Regions from separate parts of the Homo sapiens genome. Here region 2 is linked to region 1. A link means that fine-mapping ties the variant in region 1 to the expression of a gene that starts in the linked region. Tissue or cell type: lung. Region 1 holds a variant in brackets; the other region holds the start of a gene. All regions are shown on one strand. Distances are between the middles of the regions.

What was found. PIP is the estimated chance that this variant, and not a neighbour inherited with it, causes the effect.
Region 2: it holds the start of PIGG, and the variant in region 1 is fine-mapped to the expression of PIGG in lung (GTEx, PIP 0.98).

The regions. Positions count from the first base shown.
Region 1 is chr4:692,689-695,371 of GRCh38, reverse strand. No RefSeq gene overlaps it. Among named protein-coding and RNA genes, the nearest start is that of SLC49A3, 4.9 kb to the right of the region's middle. RefSeq lists enhancers at 43-543, 1,651-2,237, 2,238-2,683. The variant C/T (reference allele first, on the strand shown) is at 1,202.
Region 2 is chr4:497,945-500,627 of GRCh38, reverse strand. It overlaps PIGG (phosphatidylinositol glycan anchor biosynthesis class G (EMM blood group)), which reads right to left and starts at 1,418. Exons shown (of 13, transcript NM_001127178.3): 1 at 1,139-1,418; 2 at 27-232. The coding sequence starts at 1,292. ZNF721 (zinc finger protein 721) reads left to right here and starts at 1,472. Exons shown (of 3, transcript NM_133474.4): 1 at 1,472-1,572. RefSeq lists enhancers at 457-1,320, 1,278-1,757, 1,321-2,186.

The DNA of each region.
Region 1 (2,683 bases):
ATAAGAGAGTTTCCTAAACTTGGGGTTCTTCCCCAACATGCACCTGCTGCCTGTCCAAGTTCCACCCACATCGTCCCGTCCACCCACGGGAACTGATGTTTCCCGTGTCCACGTATGTGTGAAATTGGCTGGCTAGCTTGTTAGCTTGTGAGCAGAGCAAAGTCTCAGGCACTTCAAGTCTCTGATTTAACACATGTTCATTTTATAACACACACACACACACACACACACACACACACAAACTCATTTCACACCATGTAGATAAGAAAGTAGATACCTGATCACACAATGTACAAAATATTAGTTAACTATTTAAACCCTACACACACACACACACACACACAAAAATTCTTCTTCACCTTCTTTTTTTTTTTTTTGAGACGAGAGCCTCACTCTGTCACTCAGGCTGGAGTGCAGTGGCAAGATCTCAGTTCACTGCAACCTCCGCCTCCCCAGTTCAAACGATTCTCCTGCCTCAGCCTTGTTTGAAATGCTTGTTCCCCGGTGCTGTAAAGAAATAGCACTGGAACATAAATTTAATTTACTCAACAAGGCCATTTCTTACTTTCTGCAGAAAGGGCACACTCGCCAGCAGTTTTGCCGTGAAGGTACACCGAACAAAGGAGACAGGGTCATTTATAACCTGACGCGTCCCCCCGACTGCTGTGTCTGGTTTCCATTGGCTGGAACGGGACCTCACATTCTGTATTGGTCGCGATTGGCTAGCAACTTAGAACTTTTCAAAAGAGGCAAAGGCAGAGGAGAACAAAGGAAGGAGGAAGTAATTTGTGGAATGCTGAGAAAGGTAAAAACACCTTCAAATAAGGAAGAGGAACAGACTGTGACCTAATGCTTGCTGGGACCAGTATAAGTATGCCAGGGCAAATATTTAGGCTAACTTGTGGGAGCTAAGAAAAAAAAGTACATTCATTTATTTATTATGGCTAGCAGATATTTAAGAATGTTAGCACAGGTCTTTGAATAAATTTTGCTTCTAAGAGAAGTTACTATTTATTCCTAATTAGATGGGGAGGAAAGTTTTTGAAGAGGAAGCTCTACTTAACTTTTTACAGCCTCCCAAGTAGCTGGGATTACAGGCACGCACCACCCCGCCTGGCTAATTTTTTGTATTTTTAGTAGAGATGGGGTTTCACCATGTTGGCCAGGCTAGTCTCAAACTCCTGACCTCGAGTGATCCACC[C/T]GCTTCGGCCTCCCAGAGTGCTGGGATTATAGGCATGAGCCACTGCGCCCAGCCCACAGCTTGGTTTATACATTTTAAATAGGCATGAGACATCGATCAATACATGTAACATGTACATTGGTTCAGTCTGGTAAGGCTGAACAACATGAGGAGGTGGAGGGCTTCAGGTCACAGGTAGATTTAAAGATTTTCTGATTGGCCATTGGTGAAGGACTTACTATCTAAAGACCTGGAATCAAACAGAAAGGAATCCCTGGGTTAAGATGAGAGGTTGTAGAGAGCAAGGTTTATTGCAGATGAAGCCTCCAGGGAGAAGACTTGGGAGAGAATAGATGGTAAATGCTTATCAGACTCAAGGAGACTGAAGGTCTCTGTGTTGATGTTTGTGAGGCTGCTCTGATTCCCATTTCCCCTCATGGCCTGAAGCAGTTTTTCAGGATAATTTGGAATGTTGTTGGCCAAGGGGAGGGTCCATCCTTTGGTTGGGGGCTTAGAATTTTAATTTTCATTTACACACAAATGAGAACACTAGGTCCTTCCACGGCTTATACCAAATCCTCTGTGAAGGAGAGACAGAGGGGGCCCCCTAGACTCCAGATTAAAGGGGCCCCGACTTCGGGGCTCACGGGAGCCTCCACGCTGGACGGGGAGGGGAGGAGGAGGACACGGAGGGCTCCTCTCTGGCAGGTCCGACTGGAGTGGCATGTGGCCTGGACATGGCCAGAGCCCTCCCTCATCTAAGTAAATAGACAGGCTCATGTTCCCTCTGTGGCCTGGACGTGGCCAGGGCCCTCCCTTGTCTAAGTAAATAGACAGGCTCATGTTCCCGTGCACATCTCTGTAAAAGGATGGGCCTTCCACATGCTTGAGGATGCATTCACGTTGTCACTCTGGGGCAGCCTGTGCACCCGGGTCTGGGTGTGCCGACTCAGTCCCGGCCACGGGCGCTGTCCCGCATGGGCTATCAGCAGCCGGGCCCTGGAGGGAGGCGCAGAGATGGGTGGGAGTGATGGCATGCAGGCGCGTGGAGATGGGGCACATGGAACCAGACGGGTCAAGGAGGCTCCACACAGGAAGTGGGCACCCCGCGGAAGAACCTGTCTGGCAGGCCCGGGGCGGTGGAGGGACCCACAGCAGAGAGGCCATGCGTCCCACGGTTTCTGTTTTTACCCTGGAGCTGTGCCGGGCAGTCCTTCCCCCAGGGCTTCGGGGTGGGCAGACGGCTCCTGCCCTCACATTGCTGAGGTTCTCTGGGAGGAGCAGATAAAAACCACTCAGAGGAGCAGCAGGACAGGCAGGCCGTCTCAGCGCAGCAGGTGAGGTTTCCTCCCTGACAGGCTGGAAAAGGCGGCCTGCCTCCTCCTTCAGCCTTGGCAGAGCAACTGTTTCCAGTGGCTTGATTTTGAACAAGATACTGTTTAGGAAAGACACATTAGCCCGCAATTAACGAATGCTAGTCTGGGATGCTGACAGAAGTCTATG
Region 2 (2,683 bases), 190 kb after region 1:
TTCATAAAACATTAAGGCAAACTTACCTTGATTCGAGGCATAGTAACTGTAGGTGGCTTTGCTTCAGCCACAAAACTGTGAGATGCTCCTTTTTCCACAAGGTAAGTTGTGTAGGGCATAAATTTCACACCCTTTGACCCAAACACAAAATCATCTCTCAAGGCATCTATCAGAACAATAACAACTTTACTGAAGAGAGGTGGTGGCAGCGTGGTCCAGTTAGAACTGGCTCCTAAGTGTTTGAAAGAAAAAAAAGGAAATTGAACTCTAAACTTTCCTTAGCATCAAGCACCTTCACAATCTAGCTTCTACCTACTTCTCCAGCACATACCCTGCGATATCTACATAACCCAACCCAAAAGGAGGCGACTTGTACTTGGTAGGTAGTGCTGGGGGGAAAGGACGGGGGTTAACAGGAGTAATCTTAGGGACCCACAGTAGCAAGCAGTGAATTATCCTCAGTATGGTGAAGAGTACTGGGGTAGGAGAATCCCTACGTAAGGGTCCTGGAATGGGACATTTAGGGAGCTTGACCTAAAACGCAGAGCTGCAGCTACGGGATGGCTGGGCGTTTACATACTGCGTTTACATGGTCAGCGGCTGGCGATGTGTGCAAGTGGTCCAGAACCAGGGCGCCTTTACTTGCTGTATATGGCTGGGTAGGTGAAGCCTAGGAAGAGGCCTAACGCAGAGAGGCCTTAGCCCCTAGGCAGGGAAAACATCTTGGAGGAATATAAGAGACCAAAACGCGAGGGGATCGGCAGGGGTCTTATCTGTTGTGTGCTAGGGGGCAAAAAGGGCGCCTATAACGGGGAGTGACCCAAAGGCTGCTCAGGAAAGGGGCGGGAGCTCTGGACGAGTAGAAGTGGAGAGGCTGGATCCCAGGTATGGACACAGCTTACTTTGTGGTGATCAGGAAGGAAGGTCGAAGTGGGGCCAGTAGAGGTGGTTGCCACAAAGTTGTAAGAATACAGAAAAGAGACGCTGGAGCGGTTAAAAAAAATTTCTGAGGTGGGGACCATAATGGAAGAGACCACCGGGGAGCGCCGAGAAGAAATCCGAGCAGCGAGGCTCAGAAAAAAGGTCTTCTAGGGGATGTGGGGTCAGGGGAGCGGAGACGCCGGGGAGGGGTCCGTACCAGCCGAGGGTTCGGGCGCTGGGGGCTCCGCTCCGTGTTCCGCTCTGGCAGAGGAACGAACGGGAGCCGGGAAGAATCCCCGAAGGAAGACCGCGATCCCTAGCACCTCGATCGCTACGCAACAGGTAGCGAAAGTCCCGGAGCCCAGCCGCATCGTGGACACGCTAGGCTGGATGCGGAACCGACCCCACCTGGAGCCTCGCCCTGCTGCAGCCGCGCTTCCGGCTCCAGGTAGCCGCCTCTAAGCAATAACGCCAGGCCTTATCGTCGCAGCGACAGTGGCGTCACGTCCGCCGGCGCGCCACAGCAGCGCGTCACTTCCGCCAGCCCGCCACAGCGGGGCGTCACCTCGGACATACGAACAGCGGGCGGTGTTCCCGGCTCCGTGGGGCCGTCTTCCCGGCGAGTCCGCGACGGTCGCCGCCCACGGCGAGGTACGAGGTTTTAAAAAGTTTTTAATTTGGAAGGCAGGGTGCAGTGGCTCACGCCTTTAATCCCAGTACTTTGGGAGGCCGAGGCGGGCGGATCACGAGGTCAGGAGATCGAGACTATCCTGGCCAACATGGTGAAACCCCGTCTCAACTAAAAATACAAAAAATTAGCGGGGCGTGATGGCGGGTGCCTGTCGTCCCAGCTACTCGGGAGGCCGAGGCAGGAGAATCGCTTGAACCTGGGAGGCGGAGGTTGCAGTGAGCCGAGATCGCGCCACTGCACTTCTGCCTGGCAACAGAGCGAGACTGCGTCTCAAAAAAAAAAAAAAAAAGAAAATTCAACCCAATACCTCAGACAACTGGTAAATATCTTAATGATTAACTTCGTTTTAAAGATGCCACATGAGTGAGATCATGAGGTATTTGTCTTTCTGTGTCTTATTTTGCTTACATGATATCCTCAGGTTTATCCGTGTTGTGGCAAATGATAGGGTTTCATTCTTTTATTAGAGCTGAATAGTACTCCATTGTGTATATATACCACATTTTCTTTTTTCTGAAAGGAAAATCTTGGGGCCCCAAAATTACTAAACTAAGGGAAAAGACAAGCTCGGAACTGCTCAGGACAAACCTGCCTCCCATTCTATTCAAAGTCATTCCTCTGCTCACTGAGATAAATGCATATTGATAGCCTCCTTTGGAGAGGCTTATCAGAAACCCAGAAACTGCAACCATTTGTCTGTCACCTACCTGTGACCTGGAAGCCCCCTCCCTGTTCCAAGTTGCCCCCGCCTTTCTGGACAGAACCAATGTCCTTCTTTTTTTTTTTTTTTTTTTTTTTTTCTTTTTCTTTTCAGATGAAATCTCACTCTGTCGCCCAGGCTGGAATGCAGTGGCGTGATCTCAGATCACTGCAACCTCTGCCTCCCGGGTTCAAGCAATTCTCCTGCCTCAGCCTCCTGAGTAGCTGGGATTACAGGTGCGTGCCACCACGCACGGCTAATTTTTGTATTTTTAGTTGAGACGGGGTTTCACCATGTTGGTCAGGCTGTTCTTGAACTCCTGACCTCGTGATCCGCCCGCCTCGGCCTCCCAGAGTGCTGGGATTTACAGG